3 linked regions of the Homo sapiens genome follow. The protein of the gene in region 2 purifies or fractionates together with the protein of the main gene of each other region. This does not show direct contact. Each region holds a gene or a part of one and is shown on either strand. Other genes may lie near its edges. The genes, in order: SMARCA1, BAZ1B and DEK.

Region 1 (10,357 bases), on a different chromosome or scaffold from region 2:
TCAAATAGAAAAGAACACAGTCCTTCATTGATCCATAAGATTAAAATCAATGTGGAAAGTTAGAGAAAGTAGATGGCTACTCAATATAATTTAACTATTCATTAATTACCTACTGTATTATGTGCAAGTCAGTGTCAGTGATATACACATGAATAAAATAATCTCTTTCATCAAGGAACTTGTAACTCAAATAAAAAGTTTTCTGAGAACCAGAGAATATAAAACAGTGAAACAAACTACCCTGAGAGGGATAAGATTCCCAACACTACAGTGTTCAGAGGCTGCATATCTGTCTTGGATGCTAAAGATGAGATTTCTTAATTACAAGAAACTTAACATAAATGACCTTCTAACTCTAAGAGCCTGAGATACCGATATTATAATGAGATTATTAAGTAAAATGAGAAATTCCCACAGCAATGAAACAAATTTCGCTTTTCCTTCAGATGGATTAATGTGAAGCGACAGTAATGAAAGAGATATTTTATAAATAACCAATATTTTATCTTTCTCAATTGGAGTAAAAATAAATTAATAATAATTTAAACCAACATTCTACAAGTGATGTATTTAGCTATTTAACCTATACTTGTTTGATGGTCTAGGCATTCAAATTTGAAACAAACATTGAAGGCCAATTCCTCAACTTTCAAAAAAAAGAATAAATCATACCGAATTAGTTTACTTTACATAAGAGTACATTAATGCTAACTTATCTGGGTTAATTTATTCAGGATCACAGCCATCATGATTTAATTTACCAGGTATGGTTGTAAAAGTAATGCAACTGATTCAACAAACCATATATGAAAATCTACCTCAATGTATAGTTTCCATGATTTAAAAATGATATTCTTTCAAGTTTTCACTTCTCCTCAAAAGATAATTTAAACCTATTTTAAGAACCTATCTAGAAAACACAAAGAGGCAGAAATAAAATATAATCTCAGCTCAGAATATTCAGAAAAAAATGTGATTCTGGACACCACTGTTACTGTCAGACATTTAATTATAAAAATACAAGTCATCATGGTTATTAAAATTCTCTTTACGCATCATTACTTTGCTAAAATTAGAAGCACAAGGAAACCAGTTACAGATAGCCAAGTATTTTACTAATTTTTCTCTAAAAATGTGGATAAGAAGCTCCACTGGTATTTAGACTTCATTGTTTAAAATTTTTCCACTTCATAAAACACTCCTATTATCCATAAGTCTGCAGGAATAATTGTAAAATTAATAAAACTTATATCACATAATGAGATCTCAAAAGCATATTAGAAAGGCAATTTCCACCCTGTGCAGATAGGCCATCACCTCCATCTCAGCAGGATAAAATATAAGCCGTCTAAGTGAAGATTAGAGATAGGACAACCTGACAAATACAAATCAAGAAACTAAAAGCTATCAGAAGCAGTAACAGAAACAAAGCATTATCAGCATACTAGCTACAGTGCAAAACCAAAATGTCTCACCTCTCATTTTTCAGTAAAATAAGTACCTAAGAATGAGCTTTTTTATTTTAAGAAAATTCATTTCTGTCAGTTCAAAAATATAACAGCTTTATAGAGCAATTTGAGCAACAAAATATATAAAGATAGAACTGGATTATAACTCAAAACATCCATGAGTCCATACTGATATAAATAAATAACTGAAGACACAAATAAATTGGGGAGAAGGGGTAGATCTTCCACACAGAAAAATATCAATTAATAAATACATATAGATGGAATGAAGAAAATACAAAATTACCATTAGGCAAACACCACAATAATAACTACTGCAGGCAAGCTCCACCAGTACATGCTAAAATCAGTGAGTAAAAGTCTGAGAAAGATCTCCCCACAAGGTATTTATCAATTACAGAGGGAAAAATGGCAGACAATGTATTGGAAAGCCTGGATTACCAGGCAGAAGCCTGCCACAGGGGCGCTGCCCTGTGGAGCGACTCTACTAAGGCAATGCTGAGTGGAAATGTGAGGTTGGAACTCCTACACAAAGTCCCCAACAAGGGCACTGCCTAGTGGAATTGGGGGTGTTGCAGGGACCCTAGAATTACAGAGCCACCAGCATCAAGCAACTCCTATCTGGAAAAGCTGCAGGCACCATACTCTAATTCATGAGAACAGCCACGTGGGCTGTACCCAGCAAAGCCCTGGAGGCAGGGCTGCCCAAGGGCTCGGGACCCCATTTCTCACACTAGTGTGCCCAGGATGGGGGAAACAGAGTCAAGGGAGATCATTTTGGAGCTTTAATGCTGGGTTTTGGACTTGCATGGGGCTTGGTACCCCTCTCATTAGGCTGATTTATCCCTTTCAGAATGGAAATGTTTACCCAATGCCTATATAACCATTGTATCTTAGAAATAAATATCTTGTTTTTGGTTTTATAGGCTCACAGCTGTAAGGAACTTGCATTGAGACTGAGATGAGACTTTGGACTTTTTAGCTGATGCTGGAACAAATTAAGACTTTTGAGGACCATTGGGATGGAATGATTATAATCTGCAATGTGAGAAGGGCATGAGATTTGGGAGGCCAGGGGCAGAATGCTATAGTTTGGATATGTTTGTCCTCCAAATCTCACATGGAAATTTGATCCCCAGTGTTGGAGGTGGGGCCCAATAGGAAGTGTTTGGGTCATAGGGGCAGATCTCTCATGAAGGGCTTGGTGTAGTCCTCGAGGTAATGAGTGAGTTCTCTCATTCTATTAGTTCCTGACAAAGAGCCTAGCATTTCCCTCCTCTCTCTGGTACTGTCTCTCTCTCTCTGTCTCTGCCATGTGGTCTCTGCACACACCAGCTCTCCTTTGCCTTCTGCCATAAGTGAAAGCAGGCTGAGGCCCTCACCAGAAGCAGATGTTGATACCATGCTTCTCTTACAGCCTGTAGAACCATGAGCCAAATAAACCTCTTTTCTTTATAAACTACCAAGCCTCAGGTATCCCTTTACAGCAACACAAATGTGCTAAGACAGTAGATATACCAGTTACCCTGATTTGATCATTACACATTGTATATATGTAACAAAATATCACTCTGTATCCCATAAATATGTACAATTAGTATGTGTCAACTAAAAATAGAAGGAAAAAATAATAAAGTCTATTTTTTTAAAAATGCACTGTGGGATACTAGATTAGATCCCCTGGAATCTAACACCAGTTAATTAGATAATTAACCAATGTCCTTTTCCTGGCACAGGAAAGGACATTAGGAGAAAAACTGGTGTTAATTTCCTGGTTGTGATCATTATACTAACATGTAAATTGTTAATATTAGGGGAAGCTGAGTGAAGGCTATAGGTTAGCTCTGTACTATTTTTACAACTATTTTGTAAGTCTAAAGTAATTTAAAAATAAAAAGTTTTAAAATCTCAGCCTTAATTTCAGTTTAAAAAACAAGATAAATAAAACCCCCATTTCTTCAACAGACCACATGTAACAAAGTCCTTCTGCATTTAAGTAACTAAATGTTACTAATATTATTATTCATACAGTTAACATTAAGTGTCAGGCATTATTCTAATAACTTTATGAGTATTAACTCATTTCATCATCAGAATCCCTCTATGATGTAACTATTATAACCTCCATTTGATAAATGAGAAAATTGAGAATACCCAGAGTCACTTAATTAGTGACAAGAGTTGAGATTTCAGCTCCAGAATTCAGGAATTCAACCTCAATCCTACACTGCTTCTCAATAACAAAAGTAGTACTAAGCAGTAGTAGTAGTAGTAGCAGCAGCAGCAGCAACAGCAAAAATTGATGATGATGATGATGATGATGATGACGACGACGACGATAAACCAATAAAATAAACGAAAGATATACCTTGCATGAGATATTTAGACCTATATCAAATTTCACTCTAGAGCAGGGTATTATAATAGGTAAGTGCCAGTGTTATTTTATAATTGTTATGGGGAGAAATGCTCATTTGAGGGTCTAATGGTTGAGAGTAAAAAGTTACCTTCTGTTTTTCTCTATAATCTTCTCCCTCAAATTTGTATAAACTTTGTTCAATGTCCATTCTAAAATTTCTTAGAGAAGACTCTCCCATTTTTTGCAGGCGTTCATTCATCTCTGCAGTCTAAAGGTGAAAACATTGAAATGAGAAAATTATCACTGAATTACTTGTAAAAGTCTGTGGATTCTCTACCTTTTTAATAGTCAGGTTTTGACATGAAATATCCAGTCTGCTAATTTACAAGGTATGAATGCAATGCTAACATCAAACCTGAAGTGCAAATTTTACTTGCCCAAGTATTTCAAATATTTAAATGGTGCTTCCCAAGTACTCTCACTTAGGCTTTCTTTAAAATCTTTTGTCAGTGAAGTTGTACCCACATTATAATTGCTCTTGCATAATTTAAATGGGACAAATAGCTAAAGCTAAGAGAAAGGCAAAGATGGACTAAAAATACACATTTTGCATACTGGTATGAAACATATTAACACAAGATCATTTAAAATGCAGGTTATTACCTGAACTACAAAATTCTTCTGAAAAGCAAATTCAACCAGTTTACAAGATATGCAACAAACATAGTAAAATACACCATGGAGATGAAATCAGCAAAATCCACACTGTGATTAACTCAAAAGGCAAACAACCTAGTCTTTTCATCAAATAAATTACAAGGAATACAATACATGGCAGGAGAGGGGGCCTATAGATTTTAAAAGATAGAGATGAAATCTCAACCATGGCAATTTGTATTTTGATTTGCATTCTGATTTAAAAATGAAAAGAAAACTTTTTAAGTATAAATATTTACGACACAATTGTAAATTTGAATACTAACTGGATATTTGGTGTTATTAAAGAATTATTGGGGTTTTTCAGGTGAGACAATGTTATAATGATTATCTTTAAAGAGTCCTTCTATTTTAGAAATACACAGTGAACTATTTACAGCTGAAGTATGTCTGAGATTTGCTTCAAAATAATCCAAGGAGGGGAAAGATAACTGGGGATATAGACAGAACAGGACTGGTTGATGGTTGTTAGAAACAGGTGATAAGTACTTCGGGGCTCATTATACTACTCTGTCTACTTTTACTTATGTTTAAAATTATCCATAATTTGTGGAGAGGGGAAGGTGAACTAAACACAAAATTACAATATTCTGAAACAACTTATTATGCTTTAACAAATAGTGATTTAGCATTTCATGAAATGTTTTATAAAAGATTTTCAATTAACCAATGTATCAGTAGATGATTTCTAGTCCAGTGCAAAAAAAAAAAAAAAAAAAAGATTATAAAAATACAGTCCTGGTCAGGCATGGTGGCTCATGCCTATAATCTCAGTGCTTTGGGAGGCAGAGGTGGGAGGCTCACTTGGGGCCAGAGGTTCAAGATCAGTCTGGGCAACACAGCAAGGCCCTGTCTCTAAAAAAGAAAATTAATTAGATGTGCATGTTGGTACATGCCTGTGGTCCCAGCTACTCAGGAGGCTGAGGTGGGAGGATCACTTCAGCCCAGGAGGTGGAGACTACAGTGAGTTATCATTGCACCACTGCACTCCAGCCTGGGTGACAGAGCAAAACCCTGTCTCTTTAAAAAAAAAAAAAAAAAAAAAAAGCATTCCTTATACATGTGATTAAACACAAAATTTACTTGGCTTTTAGATATAGTATTTTCAATAAAGCATTAGATATAAGGTCACTCAATTTTAAACTCTGGTTCTTAGTCTTTCTCACCAAAAAAAAGTTTTAAAGCCTTAATCTACCCCTGGAAATAGATCTACAAGTTGTTGGAGAGAATATGAGCTACCTGAAACATGTAGATAATGCAGATAAACATGTACAATGAAAATATAAGTATGCTGAAGTATGTTGATATTAAAACAATCCAGCATGAAAATAAAATGCTATTTTAACTAACCTTCTTTTCCCCTCTTTCCAGAATAGTTGTAATGTCTTCATCTGTCAACTCACTCTCTTTAGAAGCAAAAACATGGGTGGCTCCATGCCGTATCATTTGTAACATTTCCTCTTTTGCCAGCTTGTTAGACTGTTGGTCAATGAGTCTTCCTAATGATAAAAATTGAAATTGTACATATTCAATCAATCATATTCCAAAGAAGGCATAATCATTCTAATCAGACATTATCACATTTAACCACACATAAAGCTTTAAAGAACAAAAAATTAGTGAGCATTAAGGTTATTTGTTTAATAAACCCTACAAGTTTTTCTTCTAGCATACTTTCTATTTCTATATAAATTCCCTTCTGTAAAACTCAGTTAAAACCCAGAAGGACAGAAACTTTTTTTCATGTTCAAACTCTGTTTTCAGATCAAACTTCTCTATATGAAAAGGTACCCTCTAATATGTTTTCAAAAATTTAAAAGTAGCCATTTTATCTGCTAAATAATCTCAGGTACTTCAAAAAGCATGCTACTGACATTCAAGAATAAGCTAGTGATGTTCAACTACTCCATATATCAAATGCCAGGGTTTCAATTCAGAAGATTTCAATTAGCATTTTTTGTTCGTTTGTTTGTTTGTTTGTTTGTTTTTGAGACAGTGTCTTGCTCTGTCGCCCAAGGCGGAGTGCAGTGGCGCGATCTCGGCTCACTGCAACCTCCACCTCCCAGGTTCAAGCAATTCTCCTGCCTCAGCCTCCTGAGTAGCTGGGACTACTGGTGCACGCCACCACACCCGGCTAATTTTTTGTATTTTTAGTAGAGACAGGGATTCACCATGTTGGCCAGGCTGGTCTCAAACTCCTGATCTCAGGTGATCCACCCGCCTCGGCCTCCCAAAGTGCTGGGATTACAGGCATGACCTACCTCACCCAGCCTCAATTAGCATTTTTAAATTTTTTCCTTTTATTTTTAGGTGATACATAACAATTGTACAGACTCATGGGATACACAGTGATGTTTCAATTTTTCCTCTAAGTTTTCAAATTTTGGTCAACTTTTATTAAAAGTAATCTCCTTTGAAGAAAACTACATGTGTTTTACAAAAAACACCTAATTAAGTTTCTATGTATAAATACCTTGTTGTATAACAATTGAATCGAGTCTCAGTTTTATCTCAGCTCTTTCTACAATCCTCTCTTCAACAGTGTTGTCAGTGATGAGACGGAATACACGTACTGGTTTCTTCTGACCAATACGATGTGCTCGATCCTAGTAGAAAGAGTTCTAATGTAAGATATTGGATATTCTGGATAAAATTTAGAGCCATCATATGCTATAAAATTCTAAAAATAAAATTAGTTATTTTTCTCTAGATCTGACACTTTGGAAAAGAGCATGATGAATATTGAGAATATCTAAAGACCACTGGGAACAAAGAAATCTGCAAATATTATATTGTACCATTAATGGGAAACTTCCAGGACAAAGGGCAAAGCACCTGTAAGATGAATAAAAGAGGGAGCTGAAAGTTTCTGGATTGAGTTACTAAGTAACTTTAAGCCACTAAATATAAACATCTTCGAAACTAGCAAGGAATTTTATTAAGTAGTTAGGGTTGCTATGGTGGCAAAAGTCTGCTTTATTTCATCATCAGGCACTTCTTTCTGCTTACTGAGGGATATGCAGTAAAGAGTTATAAAAATTAATGGGATATTACTATCCTTACTATTCAGTAGCCTAGGACTGGTCCTATGGTTTATAGTTGGTACAGGTGACAGGTGGCGAACTTCTAGTGGTATAAAACCATCTAGGGAGAGTATTTTTAAAACACAGAAGCTGCTAGAGCAAATAGGTAAAGGGAGGAGGGTGGTAGAGAAAAAAAAAATGTAAGTTCAAAACAGGCCTTGTACTAAATATAAAAACACTAGAGCCTAGTAACAAAGTTTCAACACAGCACATTTTTCAAACAGAATGCAATCCCCTGCACATATTTACATTAAACCTGAACCAGCAAATCCTGAAAGATGGGATGCACACTAAGACTTCTACGGAAATGAAGTGCTATCACTATTAGATTTTCCAGTTCAGTAACACTGTAACTTACTGGGGCTTACTCCTAGTTAGTCATATCAAACAGGTAGTTCAATACCATCGTAATGCAATAATAATTACGCCAAAGCATATTGATTTTGGAATGTCCCAGTGGTCAATCCCTTTCAATTCTCTATTATAAAAGGAAAGCCTTCTAAGTTATACCTCATTGGCATATGACTTTTCATTGCTCCCAAAAAGACACTTATCCATAGCTATATATTCAAAACCTAAGAAGTTATTTTGCATCTTTTTACTTCTAAATTATATTTCTTTATCTGAAAATGTGAGTCACATTGAGAGAAGTTGTAGCTCTAGTTCAATAAATGACACCAAAATATCAAAGGGGTTACCTGTAGTGTCATGATGAAAGGTCAGAGAAACTTTGCTCCCTAAAAAAAAATGTTTTTAAGTGTAGAATAGCTTTTGCATGGTATCATTATTAAGTAGCAAGTGTTTTTCTGGAATATATTCCTTTCTTACCTTTTTGCCTTCTCTCCCAAATTGTTTTTTATGAAAGTTAAAATCCTACCTCTCTTAATTTCAGTACTAAGGATTTTAATATATTTAGTTGTTGAACAGAATAATAACAAGAGATTGTTTTTTAATCCTTTTCATTAAAACAAATTTATGTGTCCTCTTCAATCTGTAGGAATGGGAAAAAACTGACATTTCTATTTCATGAAAAAAACCAAAATCAACACATAAATGCTATAAGTTGGATCTGGGGTGTGTTTGTTGTTCGCTTTCATTTCTTTTGTTTTTGCAATTAGCATAGCAACTGTGTTTTCCAGGATAATCTACTGTAACTTCTATAAAATCTCTCAAAAATTGTTACCTTTTTATCATAAATGACCTTTATGTGTGTAAATAGCAATAGTATTCAGAGCTATGATAAATTTCTGACACCATTAAAGATTACTAACCATAGCTTGTAGATCAACCTGTGGGTTCCAGTCTGAATCATATAGTATAACCACATCAGCACTTGCCAGGTTAATTCCGAGACCTCCAGCCCTGGTACTTAGCATAAAGATGAATTTGCTACTATTAGGAGCATTAAAAGCCTCTATTGCTTCCTTTATTTTTTATTGATAAAGGGATAGAAGAAAAAGAGAAAAATAAAATTAGACCATCAGGGTCCTTAAGAAACAAATAAAAACATTTAAAATACATATAGAAAATCTTCACACACTTTATAATATTCCTTATAAATATACTTTATAATATTCTTCCATCTTCAAAAATATGTAAGCATCTATACATATACTGTACTGTGTGAATTTCTGTAGAAAGTATATTATATAAATGAAGTTCCTAATCTTTAAAAGCTTACATCGATAGATACAAATTTAGAACAATTACATACACAAATTTAACTAAGCAAGTAATAATTCATTTACATTATTTAAAAACAATAATAATGAAAACGTTTTGAGTGAGAGCTGAAATATATCTAGGAGGTAAAATATCAGAAATCTCAACTTCATTTCCATTAGCTTATGAATGATTAGTTTAGAAGATCAACCAACAGAGAAAATGGTTTACAAATGGGAATGAGGGCAACGGATAAAGGGGAAAGTAAGAAGATTTCTATCAGTATGGTAACAAGGAACAAGCAGGTAAGTAATGAAGAAAATCAGGATGACAATCCAGGGATATTTAGTAAAGAATGTTAAAATTAATATGAATATTCTTACTATATAAAGATCTCATACAAATTAATTAGAAAAACAAAGTCCAGTAGAAAAATGAGCAGAAAAAAAGAACAGACAACTCACAGAACAAATACAAATGGTTAGAAAACACAATAATAATGTTCATTCTCGCTAGTAATCAAATAAATGCAAACTAAAACAACATAATAACATTTTTGAAGATTTAAAAAAAATGATAATACTCAATGTTGATGAGGGGGCGGTGAGACGGGCACTCTCATACATTGCTGCTGGGAGTATAAATTGGTACAACCTTTCTGGAAAGCAATTTGGCAATATGCATCAAGAGCCTTAAAAATGTTCATACCCTTTGACCCAGAAATTCCACTTCTAGGAATTTATCCTAAGGAAATAATCAGAGATGTGCACAAAGATTTATGTATAAGGACTTTCACTATAGCATTATTTATAATAGTGAAAATTTTGAAACAACCTAAACGATCAAGAATAGGGGGATGAATTACTTATAGTACATCCATAGGGTGAAATATTATCCTAAAATTACTTTTACAATTATTTTTTATGGACATTAAAAAGTACAATATAATATTAAGTAAATAGTATCAGGATACTGTACTTTACATATAGTATATGAAGTCTGATACCAATTACTTATACATATTACATATACCTAAAAAGATAGGCCAGAAATACTTGTATTTAATT
Region 2 (10,357 bases):
TTGCTTAAGTTAGTTTTAGATTTTAAAATTAATTTTGCTCCTATTCTTAAATTCTAGTATATGACTCTCAACCCTTCTACTAAGAGGAAGAATACTGGATCCCCAGACAGGAAGCCCTCAAAGAAATCCAAGACAGACAACTCTTCTCTTAGTTCACCACTAAATCCTAAGTTATGGTGTCACGTACACTTGAAGAAGTCATTGAGTGGCTCGCCACTCAAAGTGAAGAACTCAAAGAATTCCAAATCTCCTGAAGAACATCTAGAAGAAATGATGAAGATGATGTCGCCCAATAAGCTGCACACTAACTTTCACATTCCTAAAAAAGGCCCACCTGCCAAGAAACCAGGGAAGCACAGTGACAAGCCTTTGAAGGCAAAGGGCAGAAGCAAAGGCATCCTGAATGGACAGAAATCCACAGGGAATTCCAAATCTCCCAAAAAAGGACTGAAGACTCCTAAAACCAAAATGAAGCAGATGACTTTGTTGGATATGGCCAAAGGCACGCAGAAGATGACACGAGCCCCACGGAATTCTGGGGGTACACCTAGGACCTCTAGTAAACCTCATAAACATCTGCCTCCTGCAGCCCTACACCTCATTGCATACTACAAAGAAAACAAAGACAGGGAGGACAAGAGGAGCGCCCTGTCCTGTGTTATCTCCAAAACAGCTCGTCTTCTCTCTAGTGAAGATAGAGCTCGTCTCCCAGAAGAATTGCGAAGTCTTGTTCAAAAACGCTATGAACTTCTAGAGCACAAAAAGAGGTGGGCTTCTATGTCTGAAGAACAACGGAAAGAATATTTGAAAAAGAAACGGGAGGAGCTGAAAAAGAAGTTGAAGGAAAAAGCCAAAGAACGAAGAGAGAAAGAAATGCTTGAGAGATTAGAAAAACAGAAGCGGTATGAGGACCAAGAGTTAACTGGCAAAAACCTTCCAGCATTCAGATTGGTGGATACCCCTGAAGGGCTGCCCAACACGCTGTTTGGGGATGTGGCCATGGTGGTGGAATTCTTGAGCTGTTATTCTGGGCTACTTTTACCAGATGCTCAGTATCCTATTACTGCTGTGTCCCTTATGGAAGCCTTGAGTGCAGATAAGGGTGGCTTTTTATACCTTAACAGGGTGTTGGTCATCCTCTTACAGACCCTCCTACAAGATGAGATAGCAGAAGACTATGGTGAATTGGGAATGAAGCTGTCGGAAATCCCCTTGACTCTGCATTCTGTTTCAGAGCTGGTGCGGCTCTGCTTGCGCAGATCTGATGTTCAGGAGGAAAGCGAGGGCTCAGACACAGATGACAATAAAGATTCAGCTGCATTTGAGGATAATGAGGTACAAGATGAGTTCCTAGAAAAGCTGGAGACCTCTGAATTTTTTGAGCTGACGTCAGAGGAGAAGCTACAGATCTTGACAGCACTGTGCCACCGGATCCTCATGACATACTCAGTGCAAGACCACATGGAGACCAGACAGCAGATGTCTGCAGAGTTGTGGAAGGAACGGCTTGCTGTGTTGAAGGAAGAAAATGATAAGAAGAGAGCAGAGAAACAGAAACGGAAAGAAATGGAAGCCAAAAATAAAGAAAATGGAAAAGTTGAGAATGGGTTAGGCAAAACTGATAGGAAAAAAGAAATTGTGAAGTTTGAGCCCCAAGTAGATACAGAAGCTGAAGACATGATTAGTGCTGTGAAGAGCAGAAGGTTGCTTGCCATTCAAGCTAAGAAGGAACGGGAAATCCAGGAAAGAGAAATGAAAGGTAAAATTTCATGCTGAGAGAAAAGGGGAAGCTCTGTAGAAGATAGTAAAAGAAAGGAAATTACTGAGGTAATGGTAGGGTCTCTGTTTGTTTACTTATTTCTGTATGTAATAACCCAGCACCTATTGGTATGTATTTTATTTTTTATTAGTTCTGTTGATAATTTCATATTTCAGCTGGAGTGTTCAGCCTGGCATTCTGATTAGTTAATAAGTTAATGTGATGTTGGCATCTTTTCTGGGTTCAGTAAAGGACCAAATCTACAAATAGAAATAGTGGAAACAACATAGGACTTGGGAGTTGACTGACCTGGGTTCAGGTTCTAGCTCTGACTTAGCTGTACAGTGTTCCTTTGGGCAGATTACTTATCCGTGCCTCACTTTCCTCATATGCTTGATAAGATTGTTGTAAAATTGATTGACAAGGTATTTGAAGCCCCTAGCACGGTCACCAACTCAGATAGTAATCTGTCCTTTAAGATTTAAGAACTTAAAAATTTTGGGCTTTGATGGCTCCATCGAATCTGAACTTTTAAAAAGCAGCTTTATTAAGAAATAATCGACATACAGTATAATTAGTTCACTTATTGTGTATAATTTAGTGTTTTCAGTAGAGTCACAGATAATGTACAACCATTGCCAATTTTGTAACATTTTTATCATCTCAAAGAAACCTGCTACCCATGAACTGTCATTACCCCATTCGCCCATCCTCCCCAGCCCTGAGCAACCACTAGTCTACTTTGTCTCTATAGATTTGCTATTCTAGGCATTTTCTCTAAATGGAATTGTATAATAAATAGTCTGTTGTGACTTTCACTTAGCATAATGTTTTACATGCTACAACATGAATGAATCTTGAAAACATTATGCTAAGTGAAAGAAGCCAGTCACAAAATAGACCACCTCTATTTAGTTCTAAAACATTTTTTTTTTTTTTTTTTTGAGATGGAGTCTCGCTCTGTCACCCAGGCTAGAGTGCAATGGTTTGATCTTGGCTCACTGCAACCTCCGCCTTCTGGATTCAAGCGATTCTCCTGCCTCAGCCTCCCGAGTAGCTGGGATTACAGGCATGCGCCATCATGCCTGGCCAATTTTTGTGTTTTTGTAGAGATGGGGTTTCACCGTGTTGGCCAGGCTGGTTTCGAACTCCTGATCCACCCGCCTCAGTCTCCCAAAGTGCTGGGATTACAGGCGTGAGCCACTGTGCCCGGCCAGCCACCATGCCGGGCCAGCCACCATGCCTGGCCCCAAAACATTTTTAAAAGAAAACCCAAAAGTCACTCACTCTTCTCCCTTGTCCACATCCCCCAGCAACCACCAATCTGTTCTCTGCATCTATGGATTTACCTATTCTGGATATTTCATGTAAATGCAATCATATAATATGTAGCCTTTTTATGGCTGGCTTTTTTCACTTAGCATGTTCTCCAGGTTCATCCATGTTGTAGCATGTGTTAGTACTTCATTCCCTTTTATGGCTGGATAATATTCCATTGTTTGGATATACCACGTTTTGTTTCTCATTCATCACTTGATAAACATTTAGATTGTTTTCATCTTTTACCTATTATGAACAATGCTGCCATAAATATTCATGTATGAGTTTTTGAGTAGTCATATACTTAAATTTCTTTAGAGTAAATACCTCGGAATAAGATTGTTGGGTCATATGATTATGTTTAACCATCTGAGAAACTGCCAGACTGTTTTCCAAAGTGGCTGCACAATTTTACATGCCCACCAGCAGTGAATTAAAGGTTCTGACTTTTCTCCTTCCTCATCAATACTTGTTATTTTCTGACTTTTTGATGATAGTCATACTAGTGGGTGTGAAATGGTATCTCATTGTGGTTTTGATTTGCATTTCTTTGATGGCTAATGATGTTGAACCATCTTTTCATGTGTCTCCTGGCCACCTGTGTATCTTTGGCGAAGTATTCAGATCATTTGCCCATTATTAAATTGAGTTATCTGATTATTATTGAGTTGTAAGAGTTCTGTATATATTCTAGATACAATTCTCTGTCTGATACCTGGTCTACAAATATTTTCATCTATTTTGCGTGTTGTCCTTTTACTTTTTTTGGGGGAGACGGAGTTGCGCTCTTTTTTGTGCCCAGGCTAGTGCAGTGGCGTGATCTCAGCTCCCTGAAACCTCTGCCTCCTGGGTTCAAGTGATTCTCTTGCCTCAGCCTCCCGAGTAGCTGGGATTACAGGCGTGTGCCACCACACCTGGCTAATTTTATATTTTTAGTAGAGGTGGGTTTTCACCATGTTGACCAGGCAAGGTCTCGAACTCCTGACCTCAGGTGATCCGCACGCCTTGGCCTCCCAGAGTGCTGGGATTACAGCTGTGAGCCACTGCACCTGGCCTGTCCTTTCACTTTCTTAGTAGTATCATTTGAAGCACAAAAGTTTTTTAAATTTGATGAGGTTCATTTTATCTATTTATTCTTTTGTTACTTATAGATTTGGTGTTAGATTTAAGGATCTTTTGCCAAATCCAGGGTCATGAAGATTTACTCCTGTTTTCTTCCAAATGTCTTAATAGTTTTGCCTCTGAAATTTAGGTCTTTTATTTTCAGCTAATTTTTATAGTGTAAGGTAAAAGTCCAGCTTTATTTTTTTTTGCATGTGGCTCTCCAGTTGTCCTAGTGCCGTTTTTTGAAATGACAAACCTTTCCCCATTGAATGGCCTTGATACGCTTGTCAAAAATCATATGACTGTAGGATACGTTGGCTTATTTCTGGACTCTGAATTCTATTTCACTGATCTGTATGTCTGTCTTTATGTAAAAGCCACACTGTCTTGATAACTTTGCTTTGTAGTAAGTTTCGGAATAGGGAAGTGTTGATCTTCCAGCTTGTTCTTTTTCAACATTTTCTTTTTTATTTTATTTTGAGACAAGGTCTCATTCTGTCACCCAAGCTGGAGTGCAGCAGTGTGATCTCAGCTCACTGCAGCCTTGACCTCTTGGGCTCAAGTGGTCCTCCCACTTCGGCCTCCCGAGCAGCTGGGACTTACAGGCATGTGTCAGCACGCCTGGCTAATCTTTTTATTATTTGTGGAGGCTGGTATTGAACCCCTAAACTCAAGCAATCTTCCTGCTTCAGCCTCCTAAAGTGCTGGGATTACAGGCCTGAGCCACCAAACCCCGGCTTGAATAGTTCTTTCATTAGAAAATGTATATTCCTTTTAAAACAAATTTTAGTTTACACTACTTAAGGCCATTGAAATATTTTTGCATATGTATGCATACTGTGCCTGAGTATACATATGTAATGTGTACTTTCCATTTTATTTATTTTTTTGGATACAGAGCGTCGCTCTGTCGCTCAGGCTGGAGTGCAATGGTGCGATCTGGCTCACTGCAACCTCCACCTCCCAGGTTCAAGCTATTCTCGTGCCTCAGCCTCCTGAGTAGCTGGGATAACAAGGCATCTGCTACCACACTCAGCTAATTTTTGTATTTTTAGTAGAGATGGGGATTCACCATGTTGGTTAGGCTGGTCCCAAAACTCTGACCTCAAATGAACTGCCTGCCTCAACTTGCCAAATTGCTGGGATTAAAGGCATGAGCCACCGCCCCTGGCCATTGTATTAACATTTTAAAGACATATGAACAGGCCAGGCTCGGTGGCTCACAGCCTGTAATCCTACACTTCGGGAGGCTGAGGCAGGCAGATCACGAGGTCAGGAGATCAAGACCATTCTGGCCAACACGGTGAAACCCTGTCTCTACTAAAAATACAAAAATTAGCCTGGCATGGTGGCGCATGCCTGTAATCCCAGCTACTCAGGATGCTGAGGCAGGAGAATTGCTTGAACCAGGGAGTCTGAGGTTGCAGTGAGCCAAGATCGGCCACCGTACTCCAGCCTGGGGGACAGAGCGAGACTCTTGTCTTTTTTAAAAAAAAAAAAAGATCAGCTGGGTGTGGTGGTGCCTGTAATTCCAGCTACTCGGCCTATAATTCCAGCTACTCGGGAAGCTGAGACAGGATAATCGCTTGAACCAGGGAGTTGGAGGTTGCAGAGAGCCGAGATCACACCACTGCACTCCAGCCTGATGATAGAGCGAGACTCCATCTCAAAATAAATAAATAAATAAATAAATAAATAAATTAGCTGGCTGTGGTGGCACACGCCTGTAATCCCAGCTACTTGGGAGGCTGCGGCAGGAGAATCGCTTGAACCTGGGAGGCAGAGGTTGCAGTGAGCCGAGATCATGCCGTTGCACTCCAGACTGGGTGACAGGGTGAGACTCCGTCTCAAAACAAAACAATACCTATCAAGAAAGTATAACTGCGGCCGGGCGCAGTGGCTCAACACCTACAATCCCAGCACTTGGGGAGGCTGAGGTGGGCGGATCACCTGAGGTTGGGAGTTCAAGACCAGCCTGACCAACATGAAGAAACCTTGTCTCTACTAAAAATACAAAATTAGCCGGGCGTGGTGACACATGCCTGTAATCCCAGCTACTCGGTAGACTGAGGCAGGAGAATCACTTGAACCCGGCAGGCGGAGGTTGCGGTGAGGCGAGATCATACCATTGCACTCCAGCCTGGACAACACGAGAGAAACTCTGTCTCAAAAAAAAGAAAAAAAAAAAAAGTATAACTGTGTTCCAGATGAAGCAGAATGTAGGTTAAAACCTTCAGCTCTATTTTATCTGAAACGTAATAATTTCTTCTTGCATTTTTGGACTGCTCCACTGTGTTTTATATTTATCTTAAGAGAAGGAAAAGAAGATGATACTCTGTTATTTGTATGGAAACAAGAGACAGAATATTAGTGTTTTACCAAGATCAGTATTTGGATTAGAGTTCAGGTCTTTGGATAACTAGTTCAGTGCTGTAACCTCTGAGACAGAATTTGGTCTTCCTTTGGTGACTTGTCCTAAGTTGGTTTATGTTTGTTTGTAGTCTTGGGAGACTGAACTTTTCCTTGATTGTAATTGGGCCATCACTCACTCTCTCGCTTTTTTTTTTTTTTAATCATTTACCTTTGTGCTATTTTCTACTATAACCATTGTTACAAATACACAGTTTCACTTGGGCTAGAAAACTGTTTATCAAAGGTAACAAATTCCATGTTTTAAATAAATGGAATTTATCTTAAGTTTTTAAAGTAACATCTTTAGACAGATGCATTTTCCAGATTTACATCTTATTGTAGATGTTATTGTCAATAGACAATCAGGGTTAAAAATTATTGGGGCTGAGTGCAGTGGCTCACATCTCTAATCCCAGCATTTTGAGAGGCCGAGGCAGGAGGATCGCTTGAGCCCAGAAGTTTGAGACCAGCTTGGGCAAACATAGTAAGACCCTATCTCTAAAAAAATAATAAACACTTCTTAAAAATTGTGACATTGTAAATAGCATTGCCATGTACCCTATGGTGTCAAGGTTTGTGACAATTATGGAAAAACTTAACAAAATTAGCGGGCTGCTTTTGTTGAGGGAAATTTCTAACTGAATAAACCTAATTAATGAATGATCAGAAATAAAATTTTTATCATTAACAGTAACTTGCAGAATAATTAGAAAAATAGGTGTTCAATGTAAAATAATTATTATCCACAAGTGCGTCCCTGCTGTTGCTTTTCAGGTTTGTTTTCTTGTCATCAGGGCTATTAAGCCAAATTACTGTCAGATTCCTCAGGACTGAAATATGTTTTATTTTGAAATAGTTATTTTACTAGTTTGATTTATCGTGATCTTTTTGAGGATCCTGTAGGTGCACCTGTCAGAAGATGTTTCAGTTAGTCCTATTTATGGACTGTTAACTGTTTCTTCAGGATTGTTTAAAATATATTAAGAAGTGATATTTTGGCTGGGTGTGGTGGCTCACGCCTATAATCCCAGCACTTTGAGGGGCCGAGACGGGTGGATCAGTTGAGGTCAGGAGTTCGAGACCAGCCTGGACAACATGGGGAAACCCCGTCTCTACTAAAAATGTAAAAATTAGCTGGACACGGTGGTGTGTGCCTGTAGTCCAGCGACACAGGAGGCTGAGGCGGGAGAATTGCTTGAACCCAGGAGGCAGAGGTTGCAGTGAGCCGAGATCGCACCACTGCACTCCACCCTGGGTGACAGAGCAAGACTCTGCCTCAAAACAAAAACAAAAAGAAGTGATATTTTGGAGATAAAAGATTTTGCATTGAGTTGAGGGATGAGATGTCACCACAAATTCAAGGAGTGTAGGAGGACTAGATGTTGCTGCCTTACATGTAATTTCTTGTAACAGATTAGAATTAGAGAAAGCAAACTAAGATTTGATAACTACTGTATACTAGGCACTTTTTACTCCATATTTTATTTAATTTGTAAGAGTGGGATTTACTAGGAAAATATCTGATTTGAGTCTTTTTATTTTTAACAGTGAAACTGGAACGCCAAGCTGAAGAAGAACGAATACGGAAGCACAAAGCAGCTGCTGAGAAAGCTTTCCAGGAAGGGATTGCCAAGGCCAAACTAGTCATGCGCAGGACTCCTATTGGCACAGATCGAAACCATAATAGGTCAGTTCCTAAACCAAATTTTTGTTTTCTTTAGGACTATTTACATTGCTATTAGTTAGGAAAATTTTCTAAAGTACAAGAATAGACAAGCTTCTCTCTTCAGTTTTCCAATTCTTTTTGGAAACAGAATTGTTGATGATTATTGAATATTAACTGCCAAATGCTAGAGTTGCAAAGTTAAGTAAGACATATTCCTGCCCTTGCATATACCACAAGTAGGAAGCTTACATGATGGTGATAGGTGAAATGTAATCCAAGTCTTTAAAAATGGCAGTAGGTTTTAAATACATACATTTTGTGAAACCTAAAGGAGAAATATTAGTAGTTACACAAATTAGGGCTGGGCGTGGTGGTTCACACCTGTAATCCTACACTTTGGGAGGCTGAGTCGAGAGGATTGCTTGAGGCCAGGAGTTCAAGACCAGCCCGGCCAACATAGCGAGACCCCATTTCAATTTAAAAAAGAAAGAAATTATACAAATTACGAACATTAAGCTAGTCTCCAGTTTCAACATTTCTCGTATACTTTGATTTACCTTGCAATTTTTATCTGTCTAGAGTTCTGAAGAGGAAGAATTCTGTAAACTGTGGTTTTGAATGCTCAGTGATACTCTGTATTATCTTCTCCAGCAGTAAAATCATCCTGCAATCCTGATCTATTCACTGTCTTATTAATACTGGTTGTGATTTGTAGATACTGGCTCTTCTCAGATGAAGTTCCAGGATTATTCATTGAAAAAGGCTGGGTACATGACAGCATTGACTACCGATTCAACCATCACTGCAAAGACCACACAGTCTCTGGTGATGAGGATTACTGTCCTCGCAGTGAGTATATCTGTATATCTAAGAGTTATTTCACCCTGCTCAAGTGGGCTCAACATTAAGGACTGCTTTTCCTCTGTCACGTTTTCCATTTGCAGAATTTCTTTATTGTGGTCTTAGATCTATTTGAGTGAAGTAGGTAGATGTGAAATGTGTAGAAAGAAGGAGAGAAACCCACGTTTGATTACCACCTTTGTTCTAAGCATAGTGTGAGAAGATGAAGAGCTTGAATATGAGGATATTTGGGTATTAGCTTTTATAGGAGCAGTTTTCAAACTTTGTCCCTTGGAAGCCTTTGTAGGTGCCTCAAGGGCTGAAATTGAGGTATGGGGTCTAAGAAGGGCAGTGTTAGATGTCCTCTTCTTCTTCTTCTTTTTTTTTTTTTTTTTGAGACGGAATTTCACTCTTGTTGCCCAGGCTGGAGAGCAATGGCGTGATCTCGGCTCACTGCAACCTCCACCTCCTGGGTTCAAACACTTCTCCTACTTCAGTCTCCCGAGTAGCTGGGACTACAGGTGTGTGCCACCACATCTGGCTAATTTTTGTATTTTTTGTAGGGACGGGGTTTCGCCATGTTGGCCAAGCTGGTCTCAAACTCCTGACCTCAGGTGATCTGCCCACCTCGGCCTCCCAAAGTGCTGGGGATTACAAGTGTGAGCCACTGCACCTGACCCTCTTCTTCTACTTTTAAAATTAATTTATTCAGTGTTTATGCTGAATCTCTATTTGTGAAGCAGTTTGTCATACGCTAGGGGTATAGCAGCAAACAAGACAGATAAGGTTCTTAAAATTCTTGTGAGGAGAAACATGGCAAATACCTAACGAAAAATGAGTGACTGAGAGGGGATCATGTAGGGACACTGGTAATATTCTTTCTCTTGATCTGGGTGCCGGGTATATGTGTTCAGTTTGTAAAAGAAACACACACTGAATAGTTTTCTGAATATATATCCATATTCTTTCTTAAAGTGTATGTATTGAGTATATTTCAAGAAAGAAATAAAACAAATTTTAATTAAAAAAATAAGATGGTTAGGTTAGGTCAGGTTTTCTCAACCTCAGTGTTACTGACATTTTGGGCTAGATGAATCTTTTTTTTTTTCCTCCCACCATGACACTGATGAGGAAGATAGTTTTTTGTACTGGGAGCTGTCCTGTGCATTATAGGTTATTCGGGAGCTCCCCTCTACCCACTAGGTGGTAGCAGTGAAAACCAAGTATGTCTCTAAATCCTGCCAGATACATGTGGC
Region 3 (10,357 bases), on a different chromosome or scaffold from region 2:
TTTTTTTTTGAGACAGTCTCGCTCTGTCGCCCAGGCTGGAGTGCAGCAGCACGATCTCGGCTTACTGCAAGCTTCACCTCCCAGAGAACACCACTTTTTAAAAGAACAAATATGGCTAACTCAGACTTAGGTATTTGATAGAGATGTTTTCAAACATGAACAAGGTGAGCTTGTCACTTCAAGGAAAACTGAGAGCATTTATCGCCAATGATAAACGTTATGATTTCAAGTGGGAACTAGAATTCTGGAAAATTCACATCTACTACTGTGAACTTGATAGTTTACCAAGGCCTAAGTAATTTTTCTGATGAGATGATATTTATATTAATGAGCATGATTTAATGACAGTGTTCAATAAAACGTCAACATTTGGAAGACATAATTCAGGGAACCAATATTTACAAGCGGTAAATGCATGTTACAAAACTATACATACAAGACCCAAGTTAATTAACCTGGTTTCAGACCTACATTAAACATTACAACTAATCTTTAGGAAACTACAACTTATGTAGAGTTTTGGTATTGTATGGTATCAAAAAGAGAATATACACAATTATCTAAAAAGACTTTAAAAATATTCTTTTTATGTGAGGCTCGGTTTTCTTCATATACTTATTATTTTGAGAGAGGATCTCATTCTGTCACCTAGGATGGAATGCAGTGGCATGAAAATAGCTCACTGCAGCACTGACCTCCTGAGTTCAGGCTTCCACCTCAGCCTCCCAAGTGGCTGGGATTACACGAGCGTGCCTCAGCGCCTGGCTAATTTCTTCTTGAGACAGTCTCACTCTGTCACCCAGGCTGGTCTTGAACTCCTGAGCTCAAGTGATCCACCTGCCTCGGCCTCCCAAAGGGCAGGGATTACAGGCATAAGCTACTGCATCAGGCCCTTCATAGATTTTAAACAAAACAATACATTGCAAAAGACTGAATGCGGCCAGGCACGGTAGCTCACGCCTGTAATCCCAGCACTCTGGGAGGCCGAGGCGGTCAGATCACCTGAGGTCAGGAGTTCGAGACCAGCCTGGCCAACATGGCAAAACCCCGTCTCTATTAAAAAGACAAAAATTAGCCAGGTATGGTGGCACACGCCTATAATCCCAGCTACTGTAGAGACTGAGGCAGAAGAATTGCTTGAACCTGGGAGACAGTGGTTGCAGTGAGCAGAGATTGTGCCACTGCACTCTAGCCTGGGCAACAGAGTGAGAATCTGTCTCAAAACAACAGTAACAACAACAGTAACAACAACAACAACACAAAAAGACTGAATGCAGAAGCAAATGGTAATCAAGCTGTTTTCTCTTAAGCCAGACATTAAACAGATGTACAAAAACATAAAATGCCACTCTTTCATTCTTTTGAAAAGTTATTTTTCCTAGAAAATATTATTTTTAACATTTTAAAATAAAAATTTTTCAGTTCTAATGTCAAATACAGTGAAGATCAAAATAACTCATATTAAAAAAAGCTCTTGGGGTCCTCACTAATTTTTTAAGAGGGCAACAGTATCCTGAAACCAATAAATTGGAAAACCACTGAGAAAAAGATAAATATAAAAATATCTGTCATAACAACCTAGTAAATTGCTTCTGAGGAAATAGTGATCACCTTGCCTCACACTAAATCCTTAAAAAGTACAAGTATAGCTATAGTAAAAGTTAGAAAATAAGAAGTATTTTGTCTTTAAACAAGCCAATTTAAAACACCAAAAATCATCATACCCCTTGCGTTTGTAGTTGTATAACAAAAGTTTACACTTTAACTGCTGTTTATCTGTCCTCGTGCAGCTAATGGTAATAAGGACCAAGGGCGGACGAAAACGAAGTCCTAGAGCTATTTTCTGGTTTTGATTAATGCCATCTCCCATCAGAGATGGCATTCCCCTGAACTCCTAGGCCTGCTAGATCTCTCACACTTCCTTTCCTGTCAAGATGGGGAAGAATATAAAAACATTTGCTGACAGACCTAAATCACACTAAAAAGGCAAGGTCATGTAACACTTCAACAGACATTTTAAGTCACCTATGTCATTCGTTACCATTAAATAATTAGGGCAAACCTACTAGCTTTTAGGAAGAGTGAGAAAACTGTAAGGCCATTTTACTTCCCTGTCTGGCTCCTGGGCTCTGCTGCAGATTCTGGAAACCCAATATAGGAAACTTGTAAGAGTTAGCTTTTAAATGTCACTTTTTAATACTTTATTCCAGGATCTAGGAAAACATCCAGTTCTAATATACTCCCTATTTTGTCTTCACTTGATTACAGGTTGCACCCCTTCCCTCCAGCCTTGCACCTCATCCTCAGCCCAACCTCTTCCTATTCTTCCAGTGTCTTCTAGATACCTAACCCTGACTACTAGTACTTTCTGTCCCTTCTGACATTAATTCACTATTCTTAACCTTATATCCCTTGTATCTGATTTTCCGAAGCAACATACCCCTATGGCATCTATATTATTTCTATCAGGAAATTACTGCAGATACGTCAACAGAAGGTATAGTCTTTGAATGTAGATATGAACGAATACTGACAGCAATGCTGTTATTAATCAATTTTTGTTTCATATAAAGAGGCTATGAATAACTGATTTATGAAAAAAATAAAAATTGATCCTCACTTTGCCAGAAGGCTTTGGATGCATTAAGAAATTCAAGATCCTCTTCACTAGTTCACTATTTACACCTGATCTCTCCAAATCAAGAACCTCACAGATGCTCTTTAACATGGCATTTCTAAATCTGAAACAGAAAATGGAAGAAACCAAGGTGTTAATATAGGAAAGCTTACATATGTTCTCCACAATATAAAGGGAAAGCCAACCAAATTGGCTCAGTTACATACATTTAAAAAAGTGGCCAATGCTTCTATGAATCTTTTTTCTTTTTTTTTTTTTGAGACAGTTTCGCTCTTGTTGCCCAGGCTGGAGTGCAATGGCCCAATCTTGGCTCACCGCAACCTCCACCTCCCAGGTTCAAGCGATTCTCCTGCCTCAGCCTCCCAAGTAGCTGGGATTACAGGCATGCGCCACCACAGCCGGCTAATTTTGTATCTTTAGTGGAGACGGGGTTTCTCCATGTTGGTCAGGCTGGTCTCAAACTCCTGACCTCAGGTGATACGCCCGCCTCAGCCTCCCAAAGTGCTGGGATTACAGGTGTGAGCCACTGTGCCTGGCCCGAATGTGATTTAACATTAAAAAATAAACTTAAAGCATATTGATCAAAATACAGTATTTATAAAAATAACTTACTTTTTCAACATTTCTTCCTTCTTTTTATATTGGACACTTCCTTTTTCAAATGGAAAGCCACTGAACTGACCCACATTCTTCTTTAATGAGGACACCTGAAAATGTTCCTTATTATTAATGGTATTTATTACCCAGTAATGTACACAAGAATAAATTCAAAGCCAATTCAAAGTCAACATCTTTATTTTCATACCTGTCTGTAAGTTACAATACTGGCTGAACAGTCAACCAATTCAATATGGGTTCAATATTCAACATTTCTTATTCAAAACTGAAAAATGTATTTGTCATTAACATATTAACATTATAAAAATCCTACAAACTTAAGTCTCTGAAAAGAACAATTTGAACAAATTTTCACTGGGGAGTTTTTACCACAACCAAAAGTTACCTGACAGTACCAGGGGATGTGGAAAGTTACTATTTAAAAATATATCCTTTTCATAAGTAATAAAGTTACTAGTAATTCTTCTTTTCCAAATCAAGAAGGACTTTATTCTTTCAAAGTAAAGAATAGCGAGTACCACAAAAAGCTAATACCGTTCACTAGTTATGGGACTTGTGTAAATTAAATTGGTTTAAGGATTAAATGAGATTAACAGACTCACTGAAAATAAATTATGTCATGCACCAGACATTCTATTCTACTTCAGACATTCTAACACCCAACTTTACTTTGCCCACGTACAACCTAAAGCAGTTCCCTCGATTATATAATATACTAAGTCATATGTACAGTATAATAACAATCCTTTAGCAAAGAACTATCATCCAATTTATCAGGTATTTGCTAAAAATGAGATACAATTACACCAAATTCACTTTGTATGAGATTTGTATGAGATACAAATGATTTTGCCTCTTATTTGTATGAGATACAAATGAGATCATATGTATGATCTCATACAAATCATACCGACATTCACTTATTCTGAATGTCGAGAAAATCCAAAAACATGAATTTCTTTCAATACATTTAAAGGTCACTAAAACCTTTCATCACAATTTGGATTTCGTAATTTGAAATTTCAGTTTGGAATAAAAACTACTACAGGAGAAAGAGCCCTAGAGCTGGGCATACTGGCTCACACCTGTAATCCCAACACTTTGGGAGGCCAAGGTGGGAGGACCACTTGAGCTCAGGAGTTCAAGACCAGCCTGGGCACATGGCAAAACCCTGCCTCTACAAAAAGTAAAACAATTAGCCAGACACAGTATGGTGGCATGCACCTGTGGTCCCAGCTACTTGGGAGGCTTAAGCGGGAGGAACACTTGAGCCCAGGAGGTTGAGGCTGCAGTGAGCCATGTATTGCACACTGTACTCCAGCCTGGGTGACAAAGTGAGACCGTGTCTTAAAAGAAAGAAAAAAAAAAGAAAAAGAAAAAGAAAAAAGAAGACAGAGCCCTGGATATTATAATCCAAGTGCTAATATCCAGCTGTGTTTCCTGTGATAAATCATTTAATAAGTATATACCTCAGTCTGCTCAGTCATAAAGTGTGGAAATTGAACTAGTGGATCACTAACATTTACAGAAATTGATTCCATTGTGAAGTAATATACAAGTAGGTTTAAAGTGTAAAAAGGTCTTACAGTGCCTGGCCTGTTGTAAAGCAGTTTGTGTAGATTTCTAAGTTCATCGGTTTTCTTCTTACTTAGAAAAAAATGTATCCTCTCAATTTCACAAAGTTTCTGCCCCTTTCCTGGGGAAAAAAAAAAATCACAATTAAATACCTATGGCTTACTAATACATTTACAAAGTTAATTTAATGAGAATTATTTTCACAGCATAATTTACATGTAACTCTGCTCTTACAGAGCAAATTAAATAAAATTATACCAAAAGTATAAAACACTACCTTGCTGATACTAAGCTACAAACCATCATTTTCACAAATTTAGGCACTTTCACCACAAAATGAAAGGAAGCTAGAATAAACTTACCTTGTGCAATTGTAAATGGCTCTCTCTGTAAGGAAGAGACTTGCATTGTCAACCTCTCTACTTTTTTCTTTTCCCTCTTGCCTTCCACGATGAGACTCTTTTCTAGAAATTAATTTAGTATTTCTTAATTAACAAAAAGCTTAAACATTGTATTAACTTTATTAGATACACATGTAGAACAAAGTCCCCAAAACCTAATACTTTATTCTTCTTCTGAGCATGGTTTTGGAAAGCAAATGACATAAAAGAGGAAAACACTTGATTAATTAATAGAGCACCATGAAAATTTTTTCAGAGTAACATTTTACTCACCTGGCACTCACAGGGACTCAGTTAAAAAAAAAAATTAGAAAGCAAACTAATTTTTATCCAACTAAAATTATTGCCATTACAGTCCAGTCACTTCGTTTGTGAAAAAAATCTAGCTCTGTTTAATCTTTGGACATAATTCTATTTAATAATTGAGATTCAGTTTGCTGTACTTCAGGAATAATCAAATTTAGACTGGGAGATTAAGAACTTCAAAAGATATATAGAGAACAATAACAATTTAGTAAACTGACAAAAGAAACACAAATAAAGACTTCCAGGCAGAACAGCCTGAAGTACGTGGATAGGATAAAACTCTCCAAGTTTACATTTAATGCAATCAACTGGGAGAGCATTACTTTGTAGTTTATGAATAACATTCCTAATGATGACCATAAGTCACTCAAAGTTAAATTGTTTAGTCACAAAAATCTACGGTGAGGCGCGGTGGCTCATGCCTGTAATCCCAGCACTTTGGGAGGCTGAGGCGGGCGGATAACGAGGTCAGGAGATCAAGACCATCCCGGCTAACTCGGTCAGGAGATCGAGACCATCCTGGCTAACTCAGTCAGGAGATCAAGACCATCCTGGCTAACGTGGTGAAACCCCATCTCTACTAAAAAATACAAAAAATTAGCCAGGTGTGGTGGCTGGTGCCTGTAGTCCCAGCTACTTGGGAGGCTGAGGCAGGAGAAAGGCATGAACCCAGGAGGCGGAGCTTGCAGTGAGCCGAGATCGCACCACTGCACCTCAGCCTGGGCGACACAGCAAGACTCCGTCTCAAAAAAAAAAAAAAAAAAAAAAAAAAAAAAAAAAAAAAATCTAGAAAACAGGTAGCATATACTTCAAAATTCAAAACATTAAGCTCCATTTATCTAAAATAAAATCATTTTTTGAATGAAATAAAGTCAGATAAAAGAATACTATATACTGCTCGAGGTTCTGCCATTTATTTAATGCCTGTGTTGTGCAGCTGCACTCAATACTAAGAGGGGATAAATGGATGATAAAAACTGCGTATCTTTTGAAAAAGATGCTACTAAAGAAATGAGACATAAATATACGCCAATATAAAAGATAACAAAACATCTTAAGAAAGATACACAAATAAATTGCTGTGCACTGAGGAGGAATTGATTATTTTGGGACTAGAGAAAAAGGAACAAAGCACGTGTGCTGGCTTTTAAAGACAGCTTAGATTTAGTAATGTAAGGATTCGCACAGAAAGAATACTTCAGGAGAAAGGGCTATCAACAGGTATATTCTGGCCATGTTGTACAGAATGAAGACCAAACACACTAAAACAACCCCTACTATCACTCAACTTCATCAACTTAGTGATTTAAACTATTTGCTTGTCTCTGATTACTAACTACAAGCTAATGACTTCCCAGTCAATCTCCAAGCCACAACTTTCATCTGAGATTCATATTAACTAATATTGCCTCAGTATCTGTGAGGGATTGGTTCCAGGACGCCCCTCAGATGCCAAAATCCATGGATGCTCAAGTCCCTTATTTTTTAAAAAAATGGTGTAGTAGTTACATGTAACCTATGACCATCTTCCCATATACTTTATATCATCTGTAGATTACTCATAATGACTAATACAACTTAACTGATATGTAAATAGTTGTTATACTGTATTGTTTAGGAATAATAAAAAAATCTGTACATGTTCAGTACAGATGCAACCATCCATTTTTACCAATTTGTGGTTGATTGAATCCACAGATGAGGAACCCACAGATATGGAGAGCCAACAGTATATGCCTGTCTGTCATCTGGACAGCTACAATTCATGTCCTACAGGCACCTAAACTCAAAATATTCAAAAGAAAAATCATAATCATCTCCAAACTTGCTCACTTTGTGAATTTTTTTCAAAAAACATTAATACCATCCACCCACCTGCCAAAGACAGAAACCTAAGAGTCATCTTTTACTAGTCATTTCTCTCACTTCCCTTTTCCCCAAAATCACTGCCAATTTTGGCTAATCTGACCCCTTTCTTAGGACAGACTTCAGAGGATATATGAGAAAGCCTGGGTGCCTGGGCAGAAGCCTCCTGCAGGGGTGGAACTCTCACAGAAAACTGCTACTCAGGGCCAGGCGTGGTGGCTCATTCCTGTAATCCAGGCCCTTTGGGAGGCAGAGACGGGCAGGTCACTTGAGCTAAGGAGTCTGAGACCAGCCTGGGCAACATGGTAAAACCCTGCCTCTACAAAAAATACAGAAAGTACCCGGGCATGGTGGCGCATGCCTGTGGTTCCTGAGGTGAGAGGATTGCTTGAGCCTGGGAGGCAGAGTTTGCAGTGAGCTGAGATCATGTTACTGCACTCCAGCCTGGGTGACAAGTGAGACCTTGTCTCCAAAAAAAAAAAAAAAAAAGAAAGAAAACCTCTACTAGGGCAGTGTGGAGTGGAAAGGGGAAATGGGGGGTGGACCCCTAGATTCACCACCAAGGCTCTATTGGCTAGTGGAGCTGTGGGAAGGGGGCTGCCACCTCCAAACTCCAGCATGGTAGAGCCACAAGCAGCTTGCATCCTGAGCTGCCCAAAGCCTTGGGACCCCTCACCCCTTGCACCAGCGTGCTCTGGATGCCAGACATGCAGTAAAAGGAGATAATTTTGGAGCTTTAAGATTTAAAGACTGCCCTGCTAGGATTCAGACTTGTAGGCCGGGCGCAGTGGCTTACGTCTGTAATCCTAAAACTCTGGGAGGCTGAGACGGGCGGATCACCTGAGGTCGGGAGTTTGAGACCAGCCTGACCAACATGGAGAAACCTTGTCTCTATTAAAAATACAAAATCAGCCAGCTGTGGTGGCATATGCCTGTAATCCCAGCTACTCGAGAGGCTGAGGCAGTAGAATCCCTTGAACCAGGAGGCAGAGGTTGCGGTTAGCCGAGGTCAGGCCACTGCACTCCAGCCTGGGCAACGAGAGCGAAACTCCGTTTCAAAAAACAAACAAACAAACAAACACAGAAAAACAAAAACCAAACAAAAACCAAACCAGACTGTGTGGGGCCTATTGCACCTTTCTTTTGGCCTTTCTCCCTTTTGGAATGGGAATTTTACCCAATGTCTGTACCATCACTGTATCTTGGGAGTAAATAACTTGTTTTTGATCTCACAGGCTCATAGGTGGAAGAAACTCATCTTCAGATGAAACTCTGGACTTACAGATTTGGGACTTCTGTGTTAATGCTGAAACAAGACCGGACTTTGGGGGACTACTGCGAAGGCACAACTGAATCTTGAAATGTGAGAAACATATGAGAGTTGGGGGACCGGGGGTGCAATGATATGCTTTGGATGTTTGCCCCCTCCAAATTTCGTGTTGAAAAGTGATTTGCAATGCTGGAGGTGAGGCCTGGTAAGGTGATTAAATCATGGGGGCAGATCCCTCATGAACGGCTTAGCATGGTAATCCGTGGTGGTGAGTGAGTTCTCTCAAGATTTGTTTAAAAGAGCATGGCACCTCCCTCTACAACTTGCTCCCACTCCCAAATGAAATGCCTGCTCCCCCTTTGTCTTCTGCCATGATTGGAAGTTTCCTGAGGCTTTCACCAGAAGCAAATACTGGCGCCATGCTTCTTGTACTGTCTGCAGAACCACGAATCAATAAAACCTATTTTCTTTATAAACTACCCTGCCTCAAGTGTTTCTTTATAGTAACGCAAAAAAAAAAAAAAGCCTAATACAGAAAGTATTTCACTGTCTGGCTTCCATGATGCCTCAGTTCTAAAGTTAAATATTCAGGGTTAAGTAAAATAAAAACTTTCACAATTCTACTTGTCCCACAAACACCTCAAATTAGTAAAAAGAATAATAAATCACAGCTACAATAAAACTATTAGGGGATAAAATTTCTACAACATCATGTTTTTAAAAATAATTTGTCTAGAACAAAACATGGGATTCTTTCAACTACCAACTCTTCCCCAAGCATTACTGTGTTGGCCACTTACAGTATATTTACATGACTTCTCTAATTTTTTCCTGACATGAAGAAAATTCACCATTTCTTTGGCATCTCAACCCTGCCCCCACCAGAAGACCAAAATACAAACAAAAAATTGGAGAAAAAGTGCAGAGCCTCTTTGGCTAGCAGCGAGATAGTGCAGCCAATTTTGTTGTTGTATTAAAAATAATTTTAAAATAACATGTTGTTAAGCAATAGTTTATGTGAAAACTTATATTTAAAAAGCCATGCTTTACTTAAATATGCCCTTCTTAGGGCACATACCACTTTAAACAAACAAAAGGCACACCTTGTAATCTTAACCCAGATTGTGACCACAGGCTGGTTGAGGCTTAAAAAAAATCCGGGTTTAGGAAGAGCGCTTCAACCTCTTCCCAAGTGTGGCTGAGTCGTAAACATATACGAAATAACCGCAGACTAAGCTAATATCAAAGAATGCTAAGAGATGCGACTCGGATTTTTAAATGTTTGGAAACATGTCAAGAAGCGGGTACACCTGAAACAGACACTGCATGCATCCTGGATAAACTGCCGCAGCACACTCCTCTATTCAGTCAAGTTTCCGTTTCACACCTCCAGTCAAATCAGGGCTCATATCGCCCTCCCTTAAAACAGACACAGGTTCGAAACCGAGACAGTGCTGGGCTCACATTTAACTTTCTTTCAGAGTTCACTTTCTTCATTTTTAACTACTTTCTCAAGTAGCAACAGCTTTCACCGCTGTTTGCCAGGGAGGGAAACTTTTTGGTAAATGTAAAAATATTCGAAAGTATTCAAATACTTCCGGGTCTAGCCTTATAACTTCAGTCTTAACGGGCTGCACCAAGACCTTACAATAACTTCAAAAGGCAAAAGATGTGTAATGAAAA

What was found.
Region 1: the proteins of BAZ1B (region 2) and SMARCA1 purify together in Homo sapiens (affinity purification with mass spectrometry; 2 studies listed by BioGRID and IntAct, with this or other methods). This does not show direct contact.
Region 3: the proteins of BAZ1B (region 2) and DEK purify together in Homo sapiens (affinity purification with western blotting; 2 studies listed by BioGRID, with this or other methods). This does not show direct contact.

Annotation. Positions count from the first base shown.
Region 1 is NC_000023.11:129,483,042-129,493,398, forward strand, and holds part of SMARCA1 (SWI/SNF-related matrix-associated actin-dependent regulator of chromatin subfamily A member 1), read right to left. Parts: intron 10,035-10,357; coding exon 9,999-10,034; intron 9,053-9,998; coding exon 8,900-9,052; intron 7,152-8,899; coding exon 7,019-7,151; intron 6,045-7,018; coding exon 5,896-6,044; intron 4,097-5,895; coding exon 3,977-4,096; intron 1-3,976.
Region 2 is NC_000007.14:73,468,270-73,478,626, reverse strand, and holds part of BAZ1B (tyrosine-protein kinase BAZ1B), read left to right. Parts: intron 1-57; coding exon 58-1,759; intron 1,760-8,143; coding exon 8,144-8,282; intron 8,283-8,976; coding exon 8,977-9,110; intron 9,111-10,357. UniProt on the Homo sapiens protein: Atypical tyrosine-protein kinase that plays a central role in chromatin remodeling and acts as a transcription regulator. Involved in DNA damage response by phosphorylating 'Tyr-142' of histone H2AX (H2AXY142ph).
Region 3 is NC_000006.12:18,253,111-18,263,467, forward strand, and holds part of DEK (protein DEK), read right to left. Parts: intron 5,296-10,357; coding exon 5,194-5,295; intron 4,953-5,193; coding exon 4,843-4,952; intron 3,346-4,842; coding exon 3,251-3,345; intron 2,742-3,250; coding exon 2,621-2,741; intron 1-2,620. UniProt on the Homo sapiens protein: Involved in chromatin organization.